Linked DNA regions of Homo sapiens: region 1 is linked to region 2. Evidence: fine-mapped expression QTL. A gene starts in region 2. The other region holds a variant in brackets. All regions are shown on one strand. Distances are between the middles of the regions.

Region 1 (16,050 bases), 38 kb after region 2:
ACTGATCCCAGTGATTTTCAGATGTGCTGCTGATCTCACCGCACATGGCTTAGTTCCCCTCACTTGCCAAAATAATTGACTTGAGGCAGGATCATTTCAGCCACTTTAGGCTCCTCTCAAACCAGTGAAACATTGTTATTTAACTCTCTTGCAGGTTTACTCCAATGCAATATACAAAGTATGGCTCTGTGCTACAAATCTGTGTTGAACACTAAGTTTCCTTGATTTGTAGTGTGCTCATCTTTGGTGCTCTCACCCTAATTATGGGGTTCCTGCCTTCAGTGTTTGAATTACACACAGATGAAGACACATACACACACACACACTCAGACACACTCACACTCACACACTCACCCTTGCCCATCGCCTTGTTTAGATGCTTATTTGGAAGAACCATGCATCTACCTTGGCTTTCATTGTGATATCTCATCCAAGTCACCTGTTTAATCCTCTAATCCTGCTGTGAACTCTGAATTACAGCCCTGCCCTTGTGATTTCCTTTTTCCTAGTGGCCATGGCCCTATAACTTTGCAGATGCCTATGACCTTGTGCATAGATTTTAGGGTACATTTGTTTTTTTTATCACTTGCTTTGGTGGTTGGGACCAGTATAGGGATCAGCAAGTTTTTCCAGGTTGGGCTCAACTGCAAACATTTAGGTTTTGCAAGCCATATGGTCTCTGTTGCAATTAATCAATTCTGCTGTTAGCACACAAGCAACCATAGACAATGCATAAACCAAAAAGCATCACTGTGTTCCAATAAATCTTTATTTATAAAAATAGGCAATAGGCTGGATTTGGCCCAAAGTCTATAATTTGCTGACCCCTGGTCTAGTCTATAACTTATCTCTTTATTGCCTCATTGTTTTTTTTTTTTTTTTTTTTTTGAGAAAGAGTCTCACTCTGTTGCCCAGGCTGGAGTGCAGTGGTGTGATCTTGGCTTACTGCAGCCTCTGCCTTCTGGGTTCAAGCAATTCTCCTGCCTCAACCTACCAAGTAGCTGGGACTACGCGCATGTGCCACCAAGCCCAGCTAATTTTTGTATTTTTAGTAGAGATGGTGTTTCATCATGTTGGCCAGGCTGGTCTCAGACTCCTGGCCTCAAGTGATCTGCCTGTCTCTACCTCCCAAAGTGCTGGGATTACAGGTATGAGCCACTGCGTCCAGCCTATTGCCTCATTTTCTATTTTCTTTTTCTTTCTTTTTTGAGACGGAGTTTCGCTCTTGTTGCCCAAGCTGGAGTGCAATGTTGTGATCTCGGCTCACTGCAACCTCCACCTCCCGGGTTCAAGTGATTCTCCTGCCTCAGCCTCCCAAGTAGCTGGGACTATAGGCGCCCACCACCATGCCTGGCTAATTGTTGTATTTTTGGTAGAAACGGGGTTTCACCATGTTAGCCATGCTGGTCTCGAACTCCTGACCTCAGGTGGTCCACCCGCCTCGCTCTCCCAAAGTGCTGGGATTACAGGCATGAGCCACCTCACCTGGTCGCATTTTCTATTTTCTTACTCCCACCTCCTCCAGCTTCATTCCTTTCCCTTAGATTGCTGAGAGTAAAGTATCATGACTTCCATGTAAAATCCCAAGATAAGATACAAATCACCACTGGATAAACCAATAAAAATGAGTCTGTGTACCTGAGTAACAAGTCTGCTTTGGTGCCCATGAGGGCTTCTTAGAAGAGGCAGCACACAGATTTTGGTCCCAGATGGCTAATACTTTAATCAGATTCTATTTCGGTAATTTATGCTATTTCCTTCCTAAGAATTAGAACCTCGCCTTGGTTTTTTGATACACTCTGGTGTTAGTCTCCATTTGTTGCTTTATCCAGTACTGTTTTGTCCTCATTCCTTGCATAAGAACTCTGGATTTTGTTCAGCTATAACAACAGTGTGTGCAGGGAAGACATATCTCTCCCAAGTTTAGGGAATGCATTTTTGTCTGGAATTTGTATTGGATATGTCTGGGACCCAGTTCTAGGCAATAGTATCTGAGGGAAGTCTCCCTGGGGCTTCTAGGAATGAATTTTTCTCCACAATAGGGAAGAGAAACACAACATGAAACCCCAGCACCTTTCTCCTGGCTGTTGATTATCACTGAATGAAAACAATATTCTTGTATCTGCTGTACCCATCGCCATCTTGGGACCATGAGCGGGGACATGATCAACACTTTAACATTGGCAGAAGAAAATAATGAAAAGAATTTGTTTAGTAATAGGGTGTTTCCCCATCCTCTCTTAGTTATAGAGTATATATACCCTATATTAACATTTTAAATGCTAATGATAACCTGAGCCTTCAGCAAGTCTTAATTTTTTTTTTTTTTTTTTTTTTTTTTTTTTTGAGACAGGGTTTCACTCTGTGCTCAGGCGGGAATCCAGTGGTGCGATCTCGGCTCACTGCACCTCAACCTCCTCCTGGGCTCAGGTGATCCTCCCACCTCAGTCTCCCAAGTAGCTGGGATTATATGCGTGCACCACCACACCTCGCTAATTTTTTGTATTTTTTTTATAGAGTCAGGGTTTTGCCATGTTGCCTAGGGTAGTCTCTAACTCTGGGACTCAAGTGATCCTCCTGCCTTGCCCTCCCAAAGTGCTGGGATTACAGGCATGAGCCGCTGCCCCAGCCCTAACTTTTAAGAATTGGAAAGATTCTATTTTATTTTAACATTTTTAGAGATGGGGTTTTGCTCTGTTGCCCAGGCTGGAGTGCAGTGGTACAATCATAGCTCACTGTAACCTCAGACTCTTGGGCTCAAGCAATCCTCCTGCCTCAGCCTCTTGAATAGCTGGGACTACAGGCATGAGCCACTGTTCCTGGCCTTAAGAAATGAAAGATTTCAAATTCTGAAACACATCTTGCCCCAAGGGCTGTAAATAATGGATCCTGGACCTGTACTACAATTTGTATCCTGTGTTGTGTAATAAAATCTTATTTTTAGGGGACTAGTACCCCATGCTCCAGGAAAAGCATATTTTCCAAAGGAGAAGATTTCCTCTATCCAGCACCTCCCTGGAGTCTCTGCCTCACTGAGGTCTAGTCTACAAAAAAAAAAAAAAAAAAAAAGAAAAAAGAAAAGAAATTACTGGCTTCTTCCCATGAGAATTTAGTGGTAGCTTCTCTCTCAGTACACATTTGTTTTTATGAAGAATATCCCATACAAAGGTACAACTAACCTAAAGTCTCCTTCCTTCTTCAAGATACTGGATTGGAATATGGTGAAGCCATGTGGAGACACGGAGATCAGTGCGCCTCTGCTGCGACCCTATGTGCAAATGCTCACCAGAATATGCCATGACATTGTGCAATTTATCATTTCTCACCAAAGCTGCTCATTTCATCAAATTTCCCCCATTTGATAATAAAAAACACTGTATCTGCTTGGCCGATAAAAGCTGCTTTAATAAGGCCCATCTACTTTGGGTGGCCCACATGAACCTCTAAGGACAGTAAATTACATCTTGGAAATGCAGGCTTTTTGGAAATGTGTCTGCATCAGGACTCTGGGGGATTTAAATGCAGAGGGATTTGCAAGGTTTGCATTTTTCATTCATTAGGGCAGTGTTGCTGCCAAACTTCTCTTCCTGTTGGTCATACAGGGGGGTGGGCTCAACACAGCGGGCTGGTTGTAAATTACCCTGTGGCTTGGAGCAGCCCAAATGTAATACCAAGGGAATCATAGATTTTGGCACAAGTTTTGTGAACAATTTCTGAGAAATCCAAATGTATTGAAAAATCACATGTTTACAGAGGAATGAAACACTGAGCTTATCTTAAGTTCAGCAGGGCCAAGAATTAAGTTTGTCCTTTACCTAGAACAGTGTGAGAACCCCAGAATTAGATGACTGTGAGTACTCTACTTTTGTAGCATTCCATAGAAAAATTACTATAATTCAATGATTCTTTAGTCTTGATCTGTGATTCTTCATCTTTTCTTTTTCCTTCTTCTATTTTTTTTTAATCCTTTTGAGATTCTGAAGAAAGCTCTGGACATTCTGAAATTGCCCACAAGTACACACACAATTGTGTACACAATTTCTGGAGGTTGGCGGGTCCTTCAAGGCTTGTCCATAATTCTCAAGTTAAGAATCCCTGCTCTTTATACCAGAAGCTCCTTTTTTTTTTTTTTTTTTTTTTTTTTGAGATGGAGTTTCGCTCTCGTCGCCCAGGCTGGAGTGCAATGGCATGATCTTGGCTCACTGTAACCTCTGCCTCCTGGATTCAAGCGATTCTCCTGCCTCAGCCTCCCGAGTGGCTGGGATTACAGGCATGCACCACCACGCCCAGCTAATTTTTGTATTTTTAGTAGAGATAGGGTTTCACCATGTTGGCCAGACTGGTCTTGAACTCCTGATCCCAGGGGATCCTCCTGCCTTGGCCTCCCAAAGTGCTGGGATTACAGCCATGAGCCACCAAACCTGGCCAGAAGCTCTCAATGGCAACAATTATGTCTAATCTCTGTGTCTAATTATGTCCAATTGGCACAGCATTTCTCCTGTTTGTGCCTAATACCCCATTACATACTCAGACATTCTAGTTAGTGTTTCACATGAACTTACAATAATAAAGTTATTCTCTATTTTTATAGTGTTCTTAAAAAAATTTGAGGTGTTTGTTTGGTTACAAATGCAAGTCTGTACTTAAAATAAGTTCTGCAATGTATCATTCCCTTGATGCAGGAAAAAAATATTTTTTAAAGTTTTTGGCTGGGTGTGGTGGCTCATATCTGTAATCCCAGCACTTTGGGAGGCCGAGGCAAGGTGATCACTTGAACCCAGGAGTTCAAAACAAGCCTGAACAACAAAGTGAGACCCCCCGCACCGCCCCGTACAAAAAAATAGAAAAAAAAATTAGCTGGGCATGGTCATGCGTGCCTGTGATCCCAGCTACTAGGGAGACTGAGCTGGGAGGATTGTTTAAGCAGGGAGGTCGAGGCTATGGTGAGCTGTGATCCCACCACTTCTCTCCAGCCTGGGCAACAGAGCAAGAACCTGTCTCCAAAAAAGAAAAACAAATTTTCTCCTCTTTATCTCCAGAATTGCCCTGAACCAAGTGTATGCTTGGTGTCACTGCTGGGAATTGCCCGCTCTGTGTCTAACTTCTACTTCATGTGAATTTTTAAAGGTCCTCATCTTTACTTCTTCCCAGAACTGTGGGGTAAAACGTTCCTGCAGTCATTGCACTGAGCAATTCCAGGGAGCACCATTAACACATATGACTATGTGGACCTGAGCCTTCACCCAATATGGGTAATATCTGCCATTGTTGAATACTTACTGTGCTAAGGACATGTAGAAACATGTATTATCTTCCCAGTACCTGGCAAGTTACCTGTTGTCTCCTTATCTCCTTTATTTACTTGAGGAAATGAAGGCCAAGAAACCCAAAGTGATATGCTTGCAGACATAAAACTGTATGTTACAAAGTCACAATTTGAACCCAGACTTTTCTGACTTTAGAACCCTGAACTTATCTACTATACTAACACTCTTCACCCTGGATCTGCAGTTTTGTAAAACAAAGTCAGATTAGAGAAATGGGCAAAGAAGAGATCTATTATTCTTTCTTCTGTGCCAAGGAAAATCTCCCAGGAGATGTGTCTGAGGAGCTTCAGGAAACTGACCTGCATGCATATGAACCAGTGTCCCCACTGAAGTGCGGAGACGCACCTGGGTGCACAGCTTTTTTTTTCTTTGTTATGAACTGTTATATTTTATTTTATTTTTATTATACTTTAAGTTCTAGGGTACATGTGCACAACATGCAGGTTCGATACATAGGTATACATGTGCCATGTTGGTTTGCTGCACCCATCAACTCATCATTTACATTAGGTATTTCTCCTAATGCTATCCCTCCCCCAGCCCCCCCACCCCCTGACAGGCCCCAGTGTGTGATGTTCCCCACCCTGTGTCCAAGTGTTCTCATTGTTCAATTCCCACCTATGAGTGAGAACATGCGGTGTTTGGTTTTCTGTCCTTGTGATAGTTTGCTGAGAATGATGGTTTCCAGCTTCATCCATGTCCCTGCAAAGGACCTGAAATCGTCCTTTTTTATGGCTGCATAGTATTCCATGGTGTATATGTGCCACATTTTCTTAATCCAGTCTATCATTGATGGACATTTGGGTTGGTTCCAAGTCTTTGCTATTGTGAATAGTGCCGCAGTCAATGTACGTGTGCATGTGTCTTTATAGTAGCATGATTTATACTCCTTTGGGTATATATACCTAGTAATGGGATTGCTGGGTCAAATGGTAATTCTAGTTCTAGATCCTTGAGGGATCGCCACACTGTCTTCCACAATGGTTGAACCAATTTACACTCCCACTAACAAGGGTGCACAGCTTTTATCATTAGAGAAGGGTTGAAGATAAACTGGTGAGGGGTACATAGCATGGCCTCAGGAAAAACTGTGTAGCAAGTGGGAATTTTCGTGGGTCCCTCTAGTTTCTCTTTCATCCTTCTTACACCTGAGTAGCCCTACTCTTTTCAAAGGTGAAAGTAGGCAGATATGAGAAGTTCGGGTGTTTTTTCACCAACCTGTAAGAAAGTGGCAGCAGCTTGCTATTCTGGCTTTCATTGACAGGTAACAAAGGGTGGAACATGTGGAAAAGGATATTGAAGTTTAGAAGTTCAGAAGCTGATTCAGGGTGACATGGAGGTGGGGATACAGGAGTGGCACGTGCAAACTAGCTGAAAGGAATCACTTTCTCTTTTTTCAGGTCTGATTCATCCGGGAGGTGTCCCTGGGGACTCCTTGTTGGAGACATATTCCTTCTCTCAGGCTGAAGTATCATCTAGGTCTCCCAACTATGCTCCTTGAGCATCTCTAACTGGCCTGTTCCCTAGGATAAGCAAGAGGTCACAGGCAATGACTCAATCTAGACTAGTCAGTGAAGAAGCTGAAGAAGAAACAGGTTCTATTCAGTTTTATACTTCCTAAGTCAACCTTAGATAATAAGAATATACTACTGAGATTGCCCTGGAATTTACAATCTAACAAAGGGATAGTACAAGAGAGTTACCTGGCAGAGCCAAGGTGGGCAGGGCACACAGGACAGTAGGAAAGGAAGAGGAGGGGGATGTCTTAGAACACGCTTATTGGCAATGTCCAGGCCAGAACCACGGGCACCCAGGGCAAGCCTTTCCCTTTTTTTTTTTTTTTTAAATTCCCCAGGCTGGAGTGCAATAGCGCCATCTTGGCTCACCACAACCTCCGCCTCGCGGGTTCAAGTGATTCTCCTGCCTCAGCCCCCCGAGTAGCTGGGATTACAGGCATGTGCTACCACGCCCAACTAATTTTGTCATGAGCCACCACACCTGGCCTGCCTTTCTTTAACCTCACAGCACACCTGGAGAGGCACCAAAGTCTCCTGAAAACTGCCATGCCTTTGTGCAAACTGCTCAATGGACGGTTCTCATCAGCAGTTCAGGCCATCTGGGAGCACTGTCTCTCTCTGCCCAGAAGACTGGGATCATGTCCTCTGATGGGCAGTAGTGGCACAGAAAGAAAAAAGCCTAAGCAGCTTTTTTCTTGGGTGAGGTTGGCTGGTGGGAAAAATACCCTTGCTGTAGAACAAATTATTAAGTGACTTAGTAAAATGAAAATGCTTCTAGAGTAATTCAGGCAAAATTTAAAAATTTAGCATGGGCTGAGCGTGGTGGCTCATGCCTGTAAGCCCAGCATTTTGGGAAGCCGAGGTGGGTGGATCACCTGAGGTCAGGAGTTTGAGACCAGCCTGGCCAATATGGTGAAACCCCGTCTCTACTAAAAATACAAAAATTAGCCAGGTGTGGTGGAGCATGCCTGTAATCCCAGCTAATCCGGAGGCTGGGGCCGGAGAATCGCTTGAACCTGGGAGGCGGAGGTTGCAGTGAGCCGAGATCATGCCACTACACTCCAGCCTGGGCAACAGAGTGAGACTGAATCTCAAACAAAACAAAACAAAACAAAACAAAACAAAACAAAAACAAACAAACAAAAAAACCCCTTAGCATGGAGAACCTTCCAGATTGCTACCTAAACCTGCTTTTTGATTGAGGCTTAAAAAATATGCTGTTCTATACCATTGCCCAGAGGAGACTACGAAGCCACAGGACACTAGACCCTATTGTTGATGGTCTCTCCAGATGTTAAAAACGTCATAAACTTTAATTTTTTTTTGCACTAGATATAAAGCCTTAATATAGAAAGTGACCTACAAAGCCACTAAGCAAGTCAGCATGGGAGATGAACAAACAAGCCTGCTTGGCCGGGCTTCTGATCTCCTATTACTTCTTTTTCATCATGATGGGCCATAGCCTGTGCCCACTCTTATCCCTCTAGATGAGTATTGTCATCTCCTGGTAGGATCACAGCTAACTGACAGCAAAGTGTGAGAACATGAAACTTAACCTCATATTCAAAGAAAGGCAGGGGAGGAGTCCAGGCAGATGGGAAGTTAAAAAAACTGAAGAAGGAAATAGTCTAGAATTATTTATTTTCATTGTCTGTCTGAAATTTTCATCTTATTTCCATTGGAAAACACATTTACTGAACACCTCCTCTGCTCTAGACACTGTAGCAACCCTTTCTAAAAGTACAAGCATAAACAAGCCCTGCTTCCTTTTCTGGTAGAAGTTCTAGTAGGGGGAATCTGTTATAGAACACAAATAACTATCACACAAGGCCCATTCAGTAACACAAAGGTAATACCTGAGAGGTTCCGACAGGGAGAAATGTGCCACCCTTGGGAAGAAACAAGAAAGGGACCTTGAAAAAAGGAGCATTTCAAATGGGCCTTGAGAAATGAATAAAACTTAATTAAAGTTTAATCTACTATTAGTTTAATTAGGAGGGAGATTGAGGACTGGGAGAGTATGTGTTTGGAAGAGAAAAATGGCTTGAGCAAAGGCCCACAGACAGAAGGGCCAGGGTTAAGATGGAGAAATAGTGGGGTGGCCTGTGGGCCTGAAGTGATGGCATATATAGATGTGGGCCTGGGAGGAATAGTCTGTAATTATGCCATCACTGACATAAACTGTCCCCTATAGTAGATGTCCTAAGAGTGGTGACTGGGAAAAACAGAGATCTATATTAGGTGATAAAGAACAGATGGCAGGGTT[T/C]CGAAGCCCTGACCTACTTTTTTCTTCTTTCCACTATTCATATTTCCTCCTCCTTCTATTTTCAAACATTGTAGAAAAGGTGAATTTTTAAGCAAGGAGTGTTTGCCTAAGACCATTAAGGCAAGCTTGACCTTCTGCACCAGTAAGGGGGTCTCCATCCATCCTTCTTTAGAAAACATAGCATTGAATTTTTAAATATGCAGGCAATTTTTTTCTTAATAATAGTCCAAAGATATTTTATGTAACTTTTGCTTTGAAAGCAAATATGTAGTTTAATATTTTAGTTTCTTAAAATTGCTATGCTATACGTATTCTGATGCTAAACAAGACAGGACTTACCAGCTATTCAACAATCCTAGGCAAGTGGCATGTCTGAACAAAGAATATTTTGACTACTATACATTAAAAAAATTAGTTTCTTTTCTTTCTTTCTTTTTTTTTTTTAGACAGGTGCTTGCTCCAGCAGAGTCATTGCTGCTGGAGTGCAGTGGTGTGATCACAGATCATTGCAGCCTCGAACTCCTGGGCTCAAGTGATCCTTCCACTTCAGCCTAAGTAGCTAGGACTACAGGCACATAGCACCACACTCAGCTAATTAAAAAAAAAAACTTTTTTTTTGTAGAGATGGGGTGTTGCTATCTTGCCCAGGCTCGTCTTGAATTCCTGTGCTCAAGACACCCTCCTGCCTTGGCCTTGCAAAGTGCCGAGATTACAGGCGTGAGCCACCACACTTGGCCTAAGTTTTCTGATATGTAATACTTAATGACATATTTTCGGGGAAACTACACATTTCAATTCTTCTAAAATTTGGGCAAATCACATAGGTCTTTGAACTCTGATAGGTTTTCTTGGTGCTATTTTAGTCCTAGGTAGAAGATTATTCATGGAAATATTAAATCTTTTTATTTAGAAGAAACTGCAGCAGCAAAAAGGTTAATCAAATCAAAACCTGGTAATGTTAGATCACACTTCGGCAAACTTTCACTTTTTCTTTCTATTTTTTTTTTTTTTTTGAAGACAGAATCTCACTCTGTCACCCAGGCTGGAGTGCAATGGCACGATCTCGGCTCACTACAATCTCTGCCTCCTGGGTTCAAGTGATTCTTCTGTCTCAGCCTCCCGAGGAGATGGGACTACAGGCGCGCACCACCACGCCCGGCTAATTTTTTGTATTTTAGTAGAGACGAGGTTTCATCATGTTGCCCAGGCTGGTCTCGAACTCCTGAGCTCAGGCAATCTGCCTGCCTCAGCCTCCCAAAGTGCTAGGATTTCAGGCATGAGCCATCACGCCCGGCCTTGGCAAACTTTCATATGGGGGACACCAAGTCCATGACTGCTCCCTGACTGATTGAGAGATAAGAGTGAAACATGATAAAATCAGAAAGAAATACATCTAGAAAAACCTTCCAGTTCATGACAATTTTCAGTGTTCAAAATTCATTAAGAACTCTTCCTTTAAAATACAGATATCTCTGAATAGTTGAATCCATTTGTCATTCAAGTGGTGCAAATTATTTTACTCAGATAGCATTTTACACTCATTTCACAAATTGAGCCCAGGTATATGGAAGCATTGGAAGTACTGAAAAGAGGTTGGTGGTGAGCGTGGAAGGGTTAATTTTTAAGCAAGAGGTGTTTAAGACTAGTAGGAGGTGGGTTTCTTCTTGTACAAAGGATCTCTCCTCTGTACACTGGCACAATTACATGGTCTTTATGACATTGGATGGGAGACCACATCAGGATTCTGGAAAACTCCAGGAGTGAGAGGGGAGCTCTGATGAGGGGCTAATGTAGGCCCTGGGTGGTAGAGGAGTAGTAGAGGTACAGGAGAGGGAGGCTGGGATATAGAAAGGTTGTAAACCAACATCACCTTTTTCACAATGTTGCAATGTTGCCCAAGAACCCGGTGGTGGGAATCACTCCTTGATATTGAGAAAAACCTGCAAAGTACTTATTTCCCACTTCGTGTCTGAATGGCTTAAAATAATATAATAGTGTTGAGCTGTTTTGAACTTTCCCCTTTTCTATAGTTAATTGGAGGAATCCGGTGGAGAAGATGGTTTCTTTGCTATAAAATAGGCTCTTGTCCCTATCCTGATTCTGTCACTAATGTGTTATGTGATGTGAGGCAGATGACTTAGCCTTCTTGCTCACCCTTTTTTCCCCTGGTATTATAGAAAAGGCAATAATCTCTGTCTTGCAGTGTTAATGCAAGAACTAAATAACATATGTTTTAAAAGCTCAGCAGGATACTTTCAGTAAATATTATATTTCTTTCTCATAATGCTTAATTCCATTCATTCCATTTTGAAATTCTGGAAGGACAAGCTCACAGTGCAGAGCAGGGCATCGGGGTCATTCTTTAAATTTTTTTTTTCTTTTTTTTTTTTTTGTAGAGACAGGGTGTTACTATGTTGCCTAGGATGGTCTCAAACTCCCAGCCTCAAACAATCCTTCTGAAGTGCTGGGATTATAGGTGTGAGCCACCGCACCTGACTGAGGCCATTCTTGACAGGGTCCTCCAGGTCTCCTCAGCTGTAGCCCATTTCTCCAGGGCTCTGAAGCCAATTCATTATCTCAGGGGACCTGGGAGCAAAAGAAGAAATGGACTTTGGTTTACTGCCAACTAGAGCAGAGCCTTTCCAGAGCTCTCCCAAGCCCAAGGCGTTTCCCTGGAACTGGACCAGCCGTGGATGGAACAGGCCTGGTTTCCCTGTGTTTGGCTTGCCTTGGAATTTCCAAAGAACCCTGCCAGGATCCTGCCAGACGTGAGATGCTGTTCTCTTTTTCCTCAAAGCTGTTTATGTTAATTAATCAAGACATTTTGGAGCAGAAATCCTTCATGTAGAGGACATTTCCCACAAACATTCCACCCTGCAACACATCTTCCAAGCTAAAAATATTTTATGTGTTCTAGCCCCTAAAATTTTATAAATGACCATTCAAGATGGAAGCAGTGATGATTTGTACATATTCCTTAACTGAATGCCATTTGAAATGAAAAAAATCAATAGTAATCCCAGCAACTATCTAATGCATTATAAAATTAACTCTAGCCTCTCTAATTTGCATGGTTAAAAGCATTTTAAGTGGCCGGGCGTGGTGGCTCACGCCTGTAATCACAGCACTTTGGGAGGCCGAGGCGGGCAGGTCACTTGAGGTCAGGAGTTTGAGACCACCCTGACCAACATGGCACAACCCCATCTCTACTAAAAATAGAAAAATTAGCCAGGCGTGGTGGTGCGCGCCTGTAATCCCACCTACTCAGGAGGCTGAGATAGGAGAACCAGGAAGGCAAAAGTTGCAGTGAGATGAGATTGTGCCACTGCATTCCAGCATGGGCAACAGAGTGAGACTCTGTCTCAAAAAAAAAAAAAAAAAAAGCACTTTAAGAAACCATAAGTCTTAAAGAGAAAGATAATTGGGAGGTTATTATGTGTTGATCACTTCTGTGGATGTTTCTCTAGGATGGCCAAATAAAATGTCTGTAGTGATATTTTTATTGGAAGTGCCAATTTCTTTATTTTATGGTAAATATTTTTGCAAAGAGTTGTTCATCTGGCAAAGCGCGTGACTATAAACCTTGTTAATTGCACATCTAAGCTTAACCTTATTCTTCCACAAAAGCAATGATCAATAACTTGGTCATCATGATAGGAAGTGGAGTTTCTGGGGGAGGAGCAAGGGGGTTAACATTTTTTTCTACCCTTTGGAGGGAAGTGGGACTTATTTTGCTCTTCAGACTGTCTTTTCAATTTTGTTTTTCTTTTTTTCCCTGTGTATCTGGTGCAATGAGAGATGGGCCTGAGGTAGCCTGTCAGTTGAAAGGTGGCCCTGGGCCTTTGGAAGTCCTAGGAGGATTCAGGTAGGGCTCTGGGGAAAGGAAGGGTTGGCCAGCTGTTCTTGCCCTTGTGTAGAAGTGCATTTTCTTGGAACTTGCCTTGCCTCCTCCTGCTTCTGTAGCTGTAGGATCCTGGGGACAAGTCTTGAGTGTAGGTCTATAACAGTCATTTTCAATGTGTGGTCCACAGACTGGTGGCATCAACATCATCAGATAATTTATGAGAAATGTAAACAATTCTCAGGTCCCACTCTAGACAAACTGAATCAAAATCTCAGTGGGTGGGGCCCAGCAGTCCAACTTTTAACACGTCCTCAAGGTGACTAATGCAGAGCCACTGGCCTACAAAACTTCACCTGCTTCTAGGCTAAGTCTTAACTAGGTTAGTGGGGTTGTGTTTATGCAGCTCAACAGAGGAGGAAAGATTTGGGGTCAGAACCTCAGCTGATAATAAAGTATGTGAGCATGGGATCACTCTATGTATATGCCTTTTTGGGACCTGTAGCAAACATGTTTGGCTGAAGAATCAGGATTTTGACTCCATTTGTTTCTTGAAGACACAGTGTAGATACTAGCCATGTCTTCTGAACAGATTTGTATATTAGCAGCTGGGCCCTCTGAGCTCTAATACTACATTAACCATTGCCTTGCTAAAAGATGTTATACAAGCCATTTTCTATGCATCAGATGGGGAGTGTTTCTAGCCAGGGCAAGCCGTGGTGCTACAGTTGGGTTTGCTGTTGAGGCTGAGGCCATTTTCTACTTCTCCTGGGTGTCCAATGCCCTCCTTTTTTTACCAGTAAACTGAGACCTCTCTTGAGTGTTTCTCAGGACTTTGTCACCAACTTAGTTGGTTATTATGCTATCCATTCTAGCTTGTTCTTGCATTTAACTGGGTTTTCTCATTGGCTGACTGAAAGTGTGAAATTTTAGGCACTAAATCCAGTGGTGACAATTTCTGGGCACTGGCTCTATTCAGATTTCTCAGTCTTGTGTCTTTCCATTATCTAAGAATTATGAGGGACTGAGAAGTAATTATGTGATGAGCGACACATACAAACATTTCTTAGTTATAGACGTTAGTGCAGTTAGGAAGGCTGCAGGCTTATAAGTGAGAAACACCCAGGTTTGAATCTAGGTTCTAGCACTTATTAGGCCAATGGCCTTGAGCAAGTTGCTTAGTTTTAGTTTTCTCAACTTAATATAGAAATGTTAATTTCTACTTTCTAAATTAGAGCTAACATACTCAATGTTTAGTGGCAACTTTTACTGTTGGTATTAATAAAGTGATAGATCCAAGCTTATCTGAAGATAAGAAGTCTTTTTTATTTGACTTGGAATGAATCATATGTCTTTTTATTGTTATTATTTTTAGAGACAGAGTCTCACTATATTGCTCAGACTAGAACTCCTGGGCTCGAGTCATCCTCCTGCCTCAAACTTCCGAGTAGCTGGGACTACAGATGTGCACCACTGTGCTTAGCTCTTGAATCATGTATCTTGATATTGTTTTCCCCGTTTGATTTTGTCTTTGCAATGCAATGTTGTTTAGGCTAATATTAATATTATTCTTTAGCCATTGAGCACATACCATTGACAGGGGCCTGAAAGTTACTGGGTATAAGGAAAAGGCCAGGACAAGATGTAACATTCACTATAGGTAGCTGACAAAGTGTAAGGCTGGATAATTAAGCCCCAAATTTTTAACTGTTCTTAATCATGCTTTTAAAGAGAAGGAGTGTCTTCCCTTCATTTCATTCTGCTGTTTGCTTTATTGGGAGGGGAGTGCCTTACAAAAGGTAAGTGAGGTTGAAGAGCCTCTCTTCCAACACCTACTAGCTGTAAGGCCTGAGGCAAATTGCTTAACCTCTGACACTCATTTTCATCAGCTATAAAAATAGACTAATACCTAGCTTTCAGCAGTGTTGTAAGGTTAGAGACTCAGGTAACCCCAATTATCTGCCTTAATGGAGGAGAGCAAGAGATAATCCACAATGAATAGATTTTTCTTTGACATTGGAGGCTCTATTATTCCTTTTTCCCTGCAGATTTATCTTCCTACTACTTTGTGTAGGCCAAGATGAAAATTCCTTTAACTTGTGGAATTATTCTCTTGTATTGTTGAAATAACACTTATGTGCCAGAACTTTGCCAAGGAGATGTGCAAGCCTTTTGCAGATAATCAGGAGTTGACTGTGAAAGGTTGATCCATTCAAAGGTCATAGGCTACTGGAAATACCTCCAGTGCTAGTTTATGTACCAGCTGGTGTTCCTTCTTTGTGCCAGATGGACAGTGTGCATAGAGATGTAGAGCAGACTGAGTGGGAAGTGGCTGTGTTGAGGGAACAGGCAGACCTAGGCGGGGCCAGATAGAGCATCTTCCCATGTTGAAGGTGGCCACTTCTTACAAAGCAACACAATGACTGCTCCACAGACACCTTGAGAAAAATAAAAGGATCACTTCACTTAAATGTTTTCATTTGCAAAATAGTCATAGAGCATATGCCGTACGTGGTTGATCCGAGGATTACATGAGAGAACTGTATAGACCCAGCCTGTAGTAGATTACTTTATTGGTGGGGGTTCTGTTTAAATCCTTATTGGCCTTAGATATTTTTCCTGACTCTATATCTCCATGTTCTCTCCCAGAAGAGCAACACTTTCTATTTGTAAAGTATTAGGTGCAAGTATTAGTATTTTGCCATTAAAGTGGCAAAAACCGTGATTACTTTTGCACCAACCTAATATAAAAATAGACTATTTCCACCTGACATGTTGCACTATAGCTTGCCAAAAAAAAATCTTCATTTCTTGAGGACAGATAGCTAATTCTTTCTCTTTCTTCGCGCCCTGTAGTACAGCTGTTGCCTGGTCTTTTCTTTCTTCCTATGGTAAGAGAGGTGCTGCTGGGTTCTGAGCTCAAACCCAAACTCAGAAAAGCTCCTGAGGTCTTCAGGCCCTCCACCTGCTCAAGTGTGGAAACTCGCCAGTTCTAGGAATGGGTAGGACTTCTGTAAACTTCCCCACGCATTTTTTTTGGTCTCAAATTTTAGGTCATTTTGTCTCATTTTCTTAAGAATCCTGTCGGGGGTAACTTGT
Region 2 (16,050 bases):
TCTAGTTTGATGCAGAAAATTCACTTGTGCTCAGGAACCCATGAGGAACATTAGATCTTAGCAGAAACAAAAACTTCTCAAACTAGAAGATACAGCTGACAGCCAAACTCCTCACATGAAACTGGGGTGCTGGGAAGCAGTTTTTTTCATGAGGACATCTAAACTCAACACAAATCTTTGTTCTTCCTTTAAAACCAGCCCTCCCTTAAGATTTTGCTGTTGCTGCCAGCAGTACACCAGCTCTTCTAAAAGCAAAGTGTAAAATTCATTTGCGGAGTCTTCCCTGGCATCTCGTACCCCTGCATCCCCTGTTCTCACTCTAAACTTTCATTTGGCAACTAATCATATATCATAGCTCCTATAAAATGACTGACAGCTTGTCTTCACAAACAGATTAGAAACTCCTTAAGGGCAGAGAGTGGGCCTTTCCTTCCTTGCATTCCACACATGGCACATAACAAAAGCTCCTGCGATACCTGTTTATTATTCAGTCAACAGGCATCTGTTGAGCTCCTACTCTGAGCCAGGCATTGCACAGGGGCTCAAGACACAGCACCCAGCCCAGGAGCACAGCAGCCAAAGGCCCTGCATGCAGGTCTGCCTTCAGTTAAAAACCAAGAGTCCCCAAAGAATACTGCTTAAGCAGTCACTAAACTATTTAAGATAAATAGTAAAGATTTCCCCACAAGGAAGATTTATGTCCCCCAAAAATTTATGTTGCAGCTTATTGAAGAGCTCCCCATTTGTCCCTTCCACCCAAGAAAATGTCTGAGAAGAGGAACGCTAAACTGCAACAGGGCTTCTGCTGAAGATCTACAGCTCCTCCCTCCCCCATTTTACAGGTAAGGAAACTGAGGATCAGAATGGTCAAATGCTCCTGTGGGTGGGTAATGGCAAAACCAAGTAGAATCCGGGTCCTGACACTCAGTCTGAGTTTCCTTCCACTATAGCAAAACATCCCCACTAAAAGCATCAGTGGGTGCATCAAATTACATTTTAATACAAAATTCTTCAAAAGTAAAGTAGTAGCCCATCTACTACAATGCTCCTTCTGGCTGTCAGTCTCTGTAAGAAAATTAGGACTGCTGAGTACCTAACACATGTTTTGAATCTATCACCTCTGGCTGGGCACGGTGGCTCACACCTGTAATCCCAGCACTTTGGGAGGCTGAGGCGGGCGGATCACCTGAGGTCAGGAGTTCGAGACCAGCCTGGCCAACATGGCAAAACCCCATCTCTACTAAAAATACAAAAAAAAAATTTGCCGGGCGTGGTGGCAGGAGCCTGTAATCCCAGCTACTTGGGAGGTTGAGGCAGGAGAATCAGTTAAATCCGGGAGATGGAGGTTGCAGTGAGCCATGAGCCAAGATCATGCCATTGTACTCCAGCCTGGACAAGAGCGAAACTCCATCTCAAAAAAAAAAAAAAAAAAAAAAAAAAAGAATCTATCACCTCTGAAACTTTCTCAGTCTGCAAATTGTCAATAGCTTATCTACATATTTTTATGTTAAGTCTAAAATATGGGATTTTACTTACTCTCAAAAAACGCTGTGTGTTTTACTCCTTACATTTTTAAGCAGGTTATGGCAAAATACACTGAAATAACCAGTCACTTGTCAAACAGATTATCCAACTATAACTCTTGCCACTTTTTGTTCCAAGATGATCTCTTAAAAAAATAATTTTAAAGAGCCAGCAGAATTCTCAAACTACCCCCTCCAAACTAATGCACCTTCCTAACAGTAATTCTGAATCTCAAAAGGTAGCAATCAGATTTGGAGATTCAGCAAGTTGCACGTGGAGAGTTCTACACTTATCATTCAGCCCAGGCACAACAAATGAACTATCATTAACCATCATAAAGGCTTAATGTAATTGCAAGTTGATGATCTCTGTTAACAGAAAAAACATTCTTGCTACACTTGAAAAGGTAAAAACATTGGGAGTCTGAATTATGTTTACTAACATGAGGATGGCAAGAAAAAATTTCCTTCAATAGAATAATTATGCTTATTCAGTCACTGTAAGCAGAAACATCAGAATCCATTGATTGCTAGTGGTAATTGTCAAAAAAGGATAGGAAGAGCTTCTAGACATGACAGTCCTCTTTGTTGTAGTGACACTATTGAGCAGGGGTTTCATGCTTAGCACAGGTCCTGGGTTGTCCTTGAACCAAGGAGATGCTGACACTTGGCCTGCCCACGCCCCTCTCCTCCATGTCAGATGTCAGGTGCCCACCCAGTAGGAGAGGCTATTTCTGTTTCTAGGCCCATTTCCAGAACCAGGGGTGTGTTTTTGAAGTCCAGACAAGAGTTGTCCTGTTAATTGACAGCTGCAGAGCAGACAGAGAGCCCACGCTGGGTACAGATTACCTACCTAAGAACTGGCTGGGGCCTTGCTACCAGGCTGGCTGTCAGCTAACAGGCCACCTTGCTCTGGCCTCAGAAGCAGGTTCTCCTGCTGAGATTGTGCACCTGCCCAATGCTGACAGCTGGGCTATGGAGGAGCCCAAACTTAGTGTTTGGGCTTCAGGCAAGGAAGCTCCTCCTCCAGAGCGATGGTGGTAGCCAGCTGTCTTGAAACAATACTTTATTTACAGACTTGCATCTTATTTCAGCTAAAATTTCAGGTTCTGATGAAAATTTCACCATCATTTCTTTAAATAATTCTTTAAAAATCTGAGCACCATTGTTGAGTGCATACTACCAAGACTTTACTTGTTTTCTGTAATCCTAGTGACAGTAATCTGTTTATGATTCCATCAGGTCCTTAACAAAGTAAAAAAGCAGCTGTTTAATATATAACACAGCATGAAAACAGCAACACCACAGTAGCAACCCTGAAAAGAAGCATTAAAATTTTCACCTACATTTTAAGTAGATTTTAAAAACTTCCAGGAGAATGAAACACATACAAGAAAGAACCTTTTGCGAATATAGAAAAAATTAAAAAGAGAAGGAAAAGCTGGGGAATCTGCTGACTACTCTTGACTTTCATTTTTTTGTGTGTCATTCTTTAGAAAATTCAAGAAAAGCTTACACATCAGACTAACACACTAGCGTGTACAAAAAACAATCCTGCTTGAGTTGACTATGAAACAGTAAACATAAAACGGAGCTGTAAATGGAATACATTGGGGGCCATATATGAGATGGCTTTAAAGCTAAAACTAAAACAATTTAAGGCCAGGCGTGGTGGCTCATGCCTGTAATCCCAGGACTTTGGGAGGCTGAGGTGGGTGGATCACCTGAGGTCAGGAGTTTGAGACCAGCCTGGCGAAATCCCATCTCTACTGAAAATACAAAAATTAGCTGGGTGTGGAGGGGGATGCCTATAATCCCAGCTACTGGGGAGGCTGAGGCAGAAGAACTGCTTGTATCTGGGAGGCAGAGGTTGCAGTGAGCCGAGATAGTGCCACTGCACTCCAGTCTGGGTGACAGAGCAAGACTCCATCTCAAAAAAAAATTAATTAAAAAAAACTAAAACAATTTTTTTGTCACTTAAAAGCCCTTATGGATCATCTTAATCAGTGTTCGGACTACCCTATAAATGCTGTAAACAGTGAGACAACTGTCAAAGTCCCATGGGCCAAATATTTCCAAACAGAATCATGATGCTCAAACTCCCTGAAGTCTCATTTAATAATTATAGTATCAAGCATCCAAGATATCTTTTCATAGCAAATCCATTCATTACAAATCATTATCCACAAACATTTTGCCTACTGGGTGGCCAACAATGTTTCCTTTATCCAGAAAAATAAACATTCTACATAAAAAAAACAAGCATAGGAAATGCACGTATACATGTCTATATCTTTGATGGTCAAAGCTACTTTAGCAAAAACCATCTAAACTGGACAGCAAAGCCAAAAGATCAATAATCTGGGAATGTCAAAATCTTCTGGGCCACCAACCTGACAGGTAAAATACAAGCCTTATTTAACCTGACAGTTAAATAAGCCTTATTTAACTCATTACACTCCATGCTGGTTTCCTCTATTCTGACAGCCGCCCTGTCTACTGTCTTCCAGGACTATCTCCATCTACTTTATTCGTGGGTAAAGAAAACACCAGTGCTACACCAGGCAAAGAAAATCCTAGTTTCTCCCAAGCTATTAGGCACATTCATCCTCCTGTGGAAAACACAATGTAGGCAGCCCACTGTCTCTCTCAAATGTTCCCATAGTTTCAGTCTACATTGAACTTGTTCCTCAGAACAGCCAAAAAATACCCATACCACTCAACTTAGACACACAGTCATATACCACTTTGCACTGTTGGCTTTTTCACATATACTTGTCTCGTGGTCCCAAAGACTCAAAGAGCTACTTAAAGGCAAAGACTAGGTCTTACATTTCTTTAGCACTGTGCACCTGATCCATAGTCCACCTCATTCTTGTATTCTCAACTAATATTCAGAGTCAGGAAAAGTTATAATCTGAAAGGACCTTTATTTTGTTGTTGCTATTTTTGAGACGGAGTCTCACCCTGTCATCCAGGCTGCAGTGCAATGGCACAAACTCTGCTCACTGCAACCTCCACCTCCCAGGTTCAAGCATTTCTCCTGCCTCAGCCTCCCCAGCAGCTGGGATTACAGGCGTACACCACCACGCCCGGCTATTTTTTGTATTTTTAGTAGAGACAGAGTTTCGCCATGTTGGCCAGGCTGGTCTCCTGACCTCAGGTGATCCACTGGCCTCGGCCTCCCAAAGTGCTGGGATTACAGGTGTGAGCCTGAAGGACCTTTAGAGATAACCTAGTCTAAGCTCCACATTTGAAATGAACTAGGTGAGAGTCGTTAACCTTTTACAGTCCAATCAATCAGGCAGATCTGGGTTCAAATGCAGGACTGTTTTCTGTAAAATAGAGATGACACCTACCTCAGAAAACAGTTGTAATGATCAAATTATACTTTCCTTTTTGTTTTTCTTGTTAAGACATAATCTTTTTGGCTGATTTCTTTCCTGGTTAATAGTTCAATTGAATTCTAAGCCCAAGAGGCAGGGCTTTTTTCCTTTTTCCTACTGTATTTTGTGACCTTATGGTTGGTGTCTAATACAGTGCCTGGCGTCTTTTGAGTGAGCCATGAACTAACCATGTGAAAGAATGAATTAAACCTATATTATCACTTTCACGTTCAGCAAATATGTTATTCTTTAATTCCTCCAAGAATCTGTTTTTCCTAAATTGGGCCTTCTCAAAACAAATATATTTATCTCCCTACCCCTTTCTCCCTTCCTTCTCTGTCACATACACACACACACACACACCCCTACCTTTCTCTTTAGAACAGCTGGAAAAAAAAACACTGCCTCGTTCATATTTTTGGAATAAAGTTAGCATTTTTACTAGGATATTCAGGAAAACTGATAGATGGACAGGATTTGGAGGCATTACACATCTCTGGAGAGCTTTCTTATGATTTGTGGCATCGAGTCTTTCAATAAAATTACTTGTCTATAATAAATTCTGGCAGAAAGTAAATCAGAAATTCACTGGTGAGTTGTCAGTGAAGTTAAATACTTCACTCTGTGTACTTCACTCTGTTCTATACAAGCAAACAGTGACTAACAGGATTAACCTGAGCTCTAATACTGGGTGTAGATATTCCTCAACGACAAACGGGTTCCCTTCGTACAGGCATTAAATTTATATTATATTTAAGGGGGCATAAATTTTGCTTTTGCAAACACATTTTACTAGAAAAATATTTGATCCAGATGTCAGCACAAAAGTGTCATTTCTTTCCTTTGCAAGGGAGCAGCAACAAAACAACCAATGGGGAGGAAGAATAAGATCCCAGACCTCTGAAGAGGACACAGGTTTCCACTAAAGCAAGGTTGATACTTTCAAGGAATATTTTTCCTAACAGCTAAAACGGTTTAACACATAGCATCTTGTATCAATTACACAAACACCATTAAAGCCACTCTGGTTCCCTGGGAAAGGACCGCAACTGAAATCCCTTCTGGCTTCAGCTGTCCCCTCCTGCCGAGTTTGACAGCACATCCAAGGCGCCCAAACACCAGCCACTAGGCTCCCCCCCAGCGCCCTCCTCTCGCAGCAAACCGCCAAGGCTCCCGGGCCAAACTCCAAAGTCCCTCAATTCAAAACCGCGAAAATGTGAACCCTGCTAAGCAAACGGCAGGGCGCGTAATAACTTTTCTTTCTTTCCCTTTTGCGCGCGTTCGATATGCTTGTCTCTACTACCAACTCCTCAGCTCCACAGCCCGCTTCCCGCAACCCATCTCGAGGGGCGGAGGAGAGGGAGCGCCCACCAAAGAAAGGGCTAGTGAGCCCTAAAACCTCGGCAGTTTTCCCGGTGCGGGAGCTTTAGCACACATCAGCCCAATAATCAGATGCAGGAATAAAGCAGGAAGAAGGCTCCTCTCTCCATCGCACCCCATCCTTCCTAAGGAAGAAAAAAAGCATGCAGCAGGAGTTTAGCTGGACGTCTAGGTCCTTTTATGGGGCGAACAGGCCCGCAAAGCAGGCTGTCTGGAACCTGGAGGAAGAAAGTTGTCCGGCCAAGTGGATGCCTGGGCGTGAGGGAGTGCAAGGCACCCTGTCCCGAGCCCGCCAGGGGTAGGGGCCAAGGGGAAAGAGACCGGCATTCGTTTAAGAACCAGCCCCGCGCGCGGCCAGCTGCAGCCGCCGGCGAGCCGACTGGGGAGGGGTGTGGACGCCGAGGCCCGCGGAGTGGTGCCCGCAGCTCTACTTACATAACGCTTCAACTTTTTCTCCGGGGGGGACTTGCGGAGCCATCCGGAGCAGACCACTTCACCACCGCTCATGGTGCGCGCGTCTCGGGCTCCGGGCCGGGCAGCTGAGGGGCGGCGGGCGCGCTCCCGACACAGCCGACGCCTGCCGAGCGCGCAGTGGCGAGAACCTAGCTCTCCTGGTCGCGCACCCCGGACGGACTGGGCGGACAGACTCCACGGTGCGCGGGTTCCACGAGTTCGAGTCTCTCCTCTGCAGGCCCACGAACCTGAACAGAACGCGAGCCGGGGCCGCGGGCGCGCCGGCCTCCTTTCAGTGCGCCCGCCTCGCCTCCAGACGTGCCGTCTCGCCAGCTGCCTCAGCAGCGCTCGGACTCAGCGGGACTCTGCCCCGACTCGGTGCCGGAGCTTCTGTCCTTTGCGCTCCGCCCCCTAGGGACAAGACCTCCCCAGAGCGCTTTCCGAAACAGACACAGCGCTGCTCACACACACACACACACACACACACACACACAATGCCCCGCGCGGTGCCCGCTCGCCCGCCCACCCGCCCTCGGTTTCGATGCGCCCGGAGCGATCCTCCTTCCCTCTCCTCGGGGGAGGGTGGGTCACTTCGCGGCGCTCGGTGAACGCCGAGGAAAGGGGAAGCCGCGAGCCGCCTACGGGCAGCGGGCGCGGGGCTGGTCCCGGGTCACAGAGGGAGCCGCAGGGTTGGCAGCGAAGCGCGGGGCGTTTCTGAGCGGCGGGCGCAGGGAGGTCGCAGGTCAAGCCGGAGGGTGGGTCCGCTCTCGCGGCCGCCGAAGAGGGCGGGGAGCAGCAGAGGAACGAGGCGCTTGGCGGCTTGGCTCCTGGGAGGGATCCCGCTGTCCCGTCCCCTCGCGCTCCTCCCCCGCCGCCTCCCCCACCCCGGGGCTCGCGGCAGGTCCTGAGCGGCTCGGCCCCAGATCCCGATCCCTCCCTCCCTCTCCCGGCCGCCGGGCTCCTTCTTCCTCCCTCTCCTCCTCCCCTTCCCACGTTCAGGCCCGGCTCCGGTTTCTGCCCAGACTTTCTCTGAAACTCCGCCGGAGTGCTTCCAGCCAAAACAACAAGGGCCGGGGGAGGAGACGGACGAAGGGAGGGAGCAAGGGAGGGAGGGAGCGCGAGTCCGAGAGGCACCCTGGGATCTGTAGTTCGGGAAGCAGGAGCAGGGTCCTCCGCCGTCCGGCGGCCCCCAATCGGCTCCTCGCCCGGGAAGACCGCAGAGGCCTCGGCTAGGGCAGAGGCACCGGGGCTTGGGCGCGGGGAAGACTGAGGGACATTCGAATGTTCAGTCCGGGGCTTGCCATCTTGACTCAGCCCGGTGCCAGCTCGGAGCTTGTGCTGTGCTCGAGATCAGGAGTTTCGAGGGTTTTCTTTACTTGAGAGCCTGAAAGGCAAAACCGCGGGGAGACCACCATCCTGCCGGTCCCCGCCGCGCGAGATTAAAGGACAGACCAAGAGGGCGCGGGAGCTACCAGCTTGGAGGGGAGGACAGATGGGGACCCAGGGCTGGCCAGGGCTGGTCTCTGGAGCTGTTCTGCCAGAGTGATGGGGGCGCTTGGCGAGGCCAAGGATTTGGTTGGGTCCTATCTCTGAGACATTTTGAAGTCTCACACCCCTTCCATTTGTTGCCTATTCCACTTAACTTTGTATTTGTTTGAAATCTACTGTTCGGATGCTGGACTAGAAGAGGGACACTTGGCCGGGCGCGGTGGCTCACGCCTGTAATCCCAGCACTTTGGGAGGCCGAGGCGGGCGGATCAACTGAGGTCGGGAGTTCAAGACCAGCCTGACCAACATGGAGAAACCCAATCTCTACTAAAAATACAAAAATTAGCCGGGCGTAGTGGCGCGCGCCTATAATCCCAGCTACTCGGGAGGCTGAGACAGGAAAATAGCTTGAACCCGGGAGGCGGAGATTGCGGTGAGCCGAGATCGCGACACTGCGCTCCAGCCTGGGCAACAAGAGCAAAACTCCGTCAAAAAAAAAAAAAAAAAAAAAGAGAGAGAGAGAGAAAGAAGGAAGGAAGGAAATTTACTGGGTACCCTAGTTCTATTTGCCTACTTCCTTGTGTGTTTCACAATTATTATACTGGTCCTGAGTTTAACATGATTCTGTAATAAACATCTTCTCCAATTTATTTGTGAAAAAGCCCCAAAGCCAATTTCAGCAGATAATATAATCAGATAAAAGTGCTAAAAATATGACGACATAAATGAGCATTTCTGGAAAGACATAACTTCAGTCATTTTCTTATTAACACAACATTCATATTCTGAAGCTCCTCTGAGTTTGAAAATGTTAGATGATTGTAATAAGAAATTAGGTGCTGGAGTGGTGACAAGACAAAGATCCCTGCATATATGGAGGTAGTGGCATAGGGTAGTAAGCAAATAAAGAGTCAACAAAACTACAGATTGAGACTCAGTCTCAAAAAAGAAAAATCTGAAAAAGCCTGGTTCCCACTGGGGTTTAGAGACCGTCATCTTTTGGCAGGCACTTAACAGTATCACAAGGGCGGAACTTCTTGCAGATCTGGATGCACTTTTCAGGTCATCAACTGAGTAGTCGTGACCTTGGGTAAATTACACAATGTCTCTGAGTCTCAGTTTCCCGATATGTGAAATGGGAATTGCAACACCGATTTTGCAGAAGTTTAATGAGAAATAGAAATGGTAGTGTTGGCCAGGTGCGGTGGCTCACGCCTGTAATCCTAGCACTTTGGGAGGCCTAGGTGGGTGGATTGCCTGAGCTCAGGAGTTTGAGACCAGACTGGGCAACTCAGTGAAAACCCGTCTCTACTAAAATACAAAAAATTAGCCGTGGCGGCGTGCGCCTGTAGTCCCAGCTACTCGGGAGGCTGAGGCAGGAGAATCGCTTGACCCGGGAGGCGGAGGTTGCAGCGAGCCGAGATCGCGCTACTGCACTTCAGCTTGGGCGACAAAGCGAGATTGTGTCTCTAAAAAAAAAAAAAGAAAAGAAAAGAAAAGAAAAGAAAAGAAAAGAAAAGAAAAGAAAAGAAATGGTAGTGTTGGTCGGTTAGTCGGGCGCGATGGCTCGCGCTTGTATTCCCAGCACTGTGGGAGGTCTAGGTGAGCAGGTCACTTGAGGCCAGGAGTTTGAGACCACCCTGGCCAACGTGGTGAAACCCAGTCTCTACTAAAAACACAAAAATTAGCCGGGTGTGGTGGCACGCGCCTGTAGTCCCAGCTACTCGGGAGGCTGAGGCAGGAGAATCGCTTGAACCCAGGAGGTGGAGGTTGCAGTGAGCCGAGATCGTGCCACTGCACTTCAACTTGGGAGACAGAGCGAGACTGTCTCTGAAAAATAAATAAATAAATAAAAAGGAAAATGGTAGTGTTGGTTGGGCGTGATGGCTTGCACTTGTAATCCCAGCACTTTGGGAGGTCTAGATGAGCAGGTCACCTGAGGCCAGGAGGTCGCGACCATCCTGGCCAACGTGGTGAAAACCCAGTCTCTTCTAAAAACACAAAAATTAGCTGGGTGTGGTGGCGCGTGCCTGTAGTCCCAGCTACTCAGGAGGCTGAGGCACAAGAATCACTTGGACCCGGGACAGGGAGGTTTCAGAGAGCTGACATAGGGCCACTGCACTCCAGCCTGGGTGACTGAGTGAGAGTCTGTCTCGAAAAAAAGGAAAAAAGAAATGGTAGTTTTAAATATCAGGCACATATTAGATATTGTAGGATTTTTGCTGTTTGTTGCTGTATTTCTTAATGTTCTTTCTGAAACATAAACAAGCGTAATTTTTATGGCAGCTAATAAACCAAAGCACTTCTTTTTAAGTATGTGAATATAAATCATGCCACAAATCTTCCAAATGAAAATAAACCATCAAATTTGTTTTCCTCTTCTCCCATAGGCAGCATGTAGCTACATTGAGCCAAAAGTATAATTAGCATTAGTAAGACTAGTATTGTTGAGTAGTTAACTATTGGCTTTAGCAAATTTACCATTTCCTACACTCTTGTTATAAAGTTCTTTGTAAATGGAAAATTGTAATATATCTTGTATTATTTAGCTTTGGGAATTTCCACAAATTTTTTTCTTTATTTCAAATAAGGCATTCAGTTATCTCATTCCTATGTAAAAAATCTTTAAGTGTTTTTCCTATCTTCTACTGAGTTGTTTTAGGCTTGTATTTCTAGAAATTAAATCAGGGTTGAAGAGAAATTGAAGATAGATATGTCTCCATGTATATATTTTAGAAAGGAAATTTGCCTTATTTTTATATGTCATGTTTAGATTATTTGTTAAATCATATTTTATATCTTTATGCCTTAAAAGGCACGCTGGAAAAAGTTATTATATGTTAGTATCTTAAATTTTATTCATACAACGAATATTTATGGGATGCCTATTATATGCCAGTCCCTGAGGACCCAGGATACAGTAGGGGAAAGCCAGACCTGTTCCCACACTCCTCTTTCCTAGAGAAAAGCTTTTGCAGATAATTAACCCCATCATTTTGGCAATACAGTTGATAAATGCTATGGAAGAAAATATAGTGTTGTTTGGGCATATAACAGAGGATGTACCCCCCAGGAGTAGGGCGGTAGGTTGGGAAGGACTTCCCTGAGGAAAAGACTTTTTTTTTTTTTTGAGACGCAGTCTCACTCTATCTCTCAGCCTGGAGTGCAGTGGCACAATCTTGGCTCACTGCAACTTCCGCCTCCTGGGTTCAAGCTATTCTCCTGTCTCAGCCTCCCAAGTAGCTAGGATTACAGGCGTGCACCACCACGCCCGGCTAATTTTTGTATTTTTAGTAGAGGCGGGGTTTCACTGTATTGGTCAGGCTGGTCTTGAACTTCTGACCTCAGGTGATCCACCTGCCTTGGCCTCCCAAAGTGCTGGGATTACAGGTGAGAGCCACAGCGCCCGCCAGGAAATTCAGGCTTTAAATTGAGATCCTCAGGATAAGAAGAAGTTGGCCTGGTGGACATAGTAAGGGAGAGTATTCCAGACAAAAGAGAAGGTGCAGGTGTACAGGTTTTCAGGCTGGAAGGAGCATTTAATGAACTGAATGAAGGCAGCAGTGGGGTGAATGATGGAGACATTGGCACTGGCTGAGGTACAGAGGCAGGCAAGGGACAGATTGTGCAGGTCCTTGGAGATCTTCAGATTTAGACATTTTCTTGAAGCAAATGACCATTTCATCTCCTATGACATTCAAATCTATCCAAATCAGGCCGGGCGAGGTGGCTCACACCTGTAATCCCAGCACTTTGGGAGGCCGAGGCTGGCAGATCACCTGAGGTCAGGAGTTCGAGACCAGCCGGACCAACATGCAGAAACCCGGTCTCTACTAAAAATACAAAATTAGCCGGGCATGGTAGCGCATGTCTGTAATCCCAGCTACTCCAGAGGCTGAGGCTGGAGAATCACTCGAACTCGGAAGGCAGAGGTTGCGGTGAGGCGATATCGCACGCCATTGCACTCCAACCTGGGCAACAAGACGAAACTGTCTCAAAAAAAAAATAAAAAAAAGAAAAGAAAAAAGAAAAATCTATCCAAATCACCTCAAGCAATCATCTTTGTGCATTTTGTTATTCCCTTCCAGCATCCCACTTTAGCTATACATCTTTCAACTTGATTTTTCAATATCTCCCTATGTAATTATTCCTTCTTCTCAACAGCTTTTCTAGTCTATTAAGACTTGTGCTTTCCCGTGATCTATCAGACATTTCCTTTCTTCACTCCCTTCTCCTTATCCAGCTTAAATTCTGTGGTCCACATTTTCAGTAAACATTCCTATCTCACAAAACCCCAACTCTGGACAAACCTGACTGTCCTTTCTTTCTTTTTTTTTTTTTTTTCCTTTTTTGAGATGGGATATCACTCTGTCACCTAGGCTGGAGTGTGGTGGTGCTATCTCAGCTCGCTGCAACCTCTGCCTCCTGGGTTCAAGTGATTCTCCCACCTCAGCCCACCCAGTAGCTGGGACTACAGCTACACACCACCATGCCCAGCTAATTTTTGTATTTTTTTGACAGAGACAGGGTTTTGCCATGTTGGCCAGGCTGGTCTCAAACTCCTGGCCTCGAGTGATTCACTTGCCTTGGCCTCCCAAAGTGCTGGGATTACGGGCCTAAGCCACCATGCCCAGCTTGACTGTACTTTCTTCTGCACACAACCAGCCAAGTGCTGTTGGAGCAAGTCGCAGAACAGGATGAGTGACATCACTGTAAATTCATGTTCAGTGACCTCAGATAGATACAAAATTATTCTGCAGGGGCAAATCTTCATGTCCTGGGACCAGAAGTTTATATAGTTTGGGGAGTCTTTTTAACGAAAATAATGCAATTACAAATACGAAATTTGGATGAATATGTATTTAGAATGAGGAAATAAATCACCAACAAATTCCCGAAGCCCTGGAGATGCAGATGTCTTTCTTCTAAGATTTATAGGTAATTTACCAGAATCCTTACATATTCTTCCTGAGTACAGCTTGACACCCCCTCTCCACTAGGACACTCCACTTCTCCTAGAAGCTCCCCACTCTCACAAGAGGCCTGTGCAATGACAGGCCCTGAGCTGAAGCTTCATTAGCTTTATGGATGTCTCTGCCACCCAGTGACCTAGACCATTCAAGCTGCTGTAACAAAATACCTTAGACTGGGTAATAGATAAACAATAGCCATTTATTGCTTATAATTCTGGATGCTGGTAAGTCCTCCATCAAGGTACCAGCAGATCCAGTGTTTGGTGAGGGCCTGTTCCTCATAGATCGTGCCTTCTTGCTGTGTCCTCACATGGCAAGAGACACAAACAGGCTGCCCTAGGCCTTTTGTATAAGGGCACCAGTTCCATTTATAAGGGCAGAGCTCTTGTAACCTATTAGGTTGGTGCAAAAGTAATTAGGGTTTTGGACTGCGAATTTTAAATCATCATAACTAGTCTCCAACACATCTTTATTAATCAAAAGAGGAACCATAACAATCAACACATTTTTGCCAACAAGAAATAAGTTTGTTTATTCCTGTAGCGTAAAAATTCGTGCTCCAGGATTTGACGAACTCTTGGAAAGCATTTTCTGCCTCCTGCTGGTGTGGATGCATTTTACCTGCAAGTAGTTGTCAAGATACTTGAAGAAGCTTGCCAGTAGTCAGTTGGTGAGAGGTCAGGTAAATACGATAGATGAGGCAAAACTTTGTAGCCCAATTTGTTCAACTTTTGAAGCATTGGTTGTTTGACGTAGGGTCAGCCATTGTTATGGAGAAGAATTGGGTCCTTTCTGTTGACCAATGCCGGCTGCAGTCATTGCAGTTTTCGGTGCATCTCATCGATTTGCTGAGCATACTTCTCAGATGTAACGGTTTTGCCAGGATTCAGAAAGCTGTAGTGGACTGGCAGCAGACCACCAAACAGTGACCATGGCATTTTTTGGGTGCAAATTTGGCTTTGGGAAGTGCTTTGGAGCTTCTTCTCAGTCCAATCACAGAGCTCGTTGTCAATGGTTGTCATATACAATCCACTTTTCATCGCATGTCACAATCCAATTGAGAAATGCTTCGTTGTTGCATAGAATAAGAGGATGACACTTCGAAGTGATGACATTTTTTCATTTTCGGTCAGCTTATGAGACACCCACTTATTGAGCTTTTTCACCGTTTCAATTTGTTTCAAATGCTAAATGACCACAGAAGGCTCAATGTTGAGTTATTCTGCAACTTCTTATGGAGTTGTAAGAGGATCAGCTTCAATGAGTGCTCTCAGTTGGTCACTGTCAACTTCCGATGGCCAGCCACTACACTCTCCACCTTCAAGGCTCTCATCTCCTTTGCAAAACTTCTTGAACCCCCCGCTGCACCGTACCTTCGTCAGCAGCTCCTGGGCCAAACGCTTCGTTGATGCTGCAAGTTGTCTCCACTGCTTTATGACCCATTTTGAACTCAAATAAGAAAATCGCTTAAATTTGCTTTTTGTCTAACATCATTTCCATAGTCTAAAATAAACATAAAATAAACAGCAAGTAATAAGTAGCAAAAAATAAATAAAGCGAGAAATGCCCATTAAAATGATGTATAACATAACCATATTTATTTAAGAATGTATTTCAATATCAAATGGCAAATTCCAACAGTGCAAAAACTGCAATTACTTTTGCCCTCACCAAATAATTACCTCTCAAAGGTCCCACCTACATTTTAGAATTTGAAATGTTTACACATTTAATCATTTCTAAGGAAGTAATGTTTAAATCTCAAAATGAAATATCCTTGCAATAAGATTTATATTGTTATAATGTGAAAATGGTCCTTCGACAAAGGAATAAAATATTGCTTATTTTTAGAATATTTTTGAGGACTAAGCTCTGATTTTTTATCTTGCCCAAATTCCTACCTAAGGAGTCTAGGGAGTCATGCCCTACAAACCATATATTCTCATCAGATGGGTTTTATTTGATCCTATATATTTTGACTTACTTTTCAATCTGACTCTGGGATAACATTATGAGACAAGGAAAAAAATATTTAACCCCAAAAATATATTTCCTTGCCATACCTCAAAATTGCCTTGCAAAGTCTCTTGCGGGAAAAATCCACATTCTATAGAGAATCCCTTTCCCCTTTGTTTTCCTTCCTTTCTTTCCGGATCTAGGAGATAGGAGCCAGGCACCCTTTTAGGTCCCATAAGAAACATTTTACGGCTGTGCACGGTGGCTCATGCCTGTAATCCCAGCACTTTGGGAGGCCGAGGCAGGTGGATCACAAGGTCAGGCATTCAAGACCAGCCTGGTCAACATAGTGAAAACCCATCTCTACTAAAAATAAAAATAAAAATAATTAGCTGGGCTTGGTGGCAGGCTCCTGTAATCCCACCTAATTGGGAGGCTAAGGCAGGAGAATTGGTTGAACCTGGGAGGCGGAGGTTGCAGTGAGCCGAGATTGCACCACTGCACTCCAGCCCAGGTAACAGTGTGAGACTCTGTCTCAAAAACAAAAAAAGAAACACTTTACAACCGATCTCTCTCTCTGAAGTCTGCTATCTGAGAGATTCCTCTGCACAATAAAACTTGGCCCCCACAGTCCTTTATCTTAACCTGAGCATTCCTTTCCATTAATCCCAGGTCTTCAGGTAAACTCAACCAATTGTCAACCAGAACATGCTGAAATTTACTTATAGCCTGGAAGCATCCCTTCCTGCCCTGCCCCCAGCTTTGAGTTGTCCTGCCTTTCTGAACAAAACCAATGTATTTCTTAAACATATTTGATTGATGTCTCATGCCTCCCTAAAATATGTAAAACCAAGCTGTACCCTGACCACCTTGGGCACATATTCTCAGGAC

Alleles and levels. Alleles are on the strand shown, and positions count from the first base shown. SD is a standard deviation of normalised expression in the study named.
For the expression in sun-exposed skin of the gene that starts at base 7,109 in region 2, allele T in region 1 goes with a lower level than allele C (small effect, 0.21 SD a copy in GTEx).

The links.
Region 1: its variant is fine-mapped to the expression of GAB1 in sun-exposed skin (GTEx, PIP above 0.99).

What each region holds. Positions count from the first base shown.
Region 1 is chr4:143,290,282-143,306,331 of GRCh38, reverse strand. No RefSeq gene overlaps it. Among named protein-coding and RNA genes, the nearest start is that of GAB1, 39 kb to the left of the region's middle. The variant T/C (reference allele first, on the strand shown) is at 9,111.
Region 2 is chr4:143,327,935-143,343,984 of GRCh38, reverse strand. It overlaps GAB1 (GRB2 associated binding protein 1), which reads right to left and starts at 7,109. Exons shown (of 10, transcript NM_002039.4): 1 at 6,725-7,109. The coding sequence starts at 6,796. MIR3139 (microRNA 3139) reads right to left here and starts at 525; the gene lies at 450-525. It also overlaps the pseudogene LOC124900789. RefSeq lists enhancers at 6,370-7,183, 8,093-8,302 and silencers at 7,213-7,262, 7,333-7,392, 7,493-7,792, 7,733-7,900.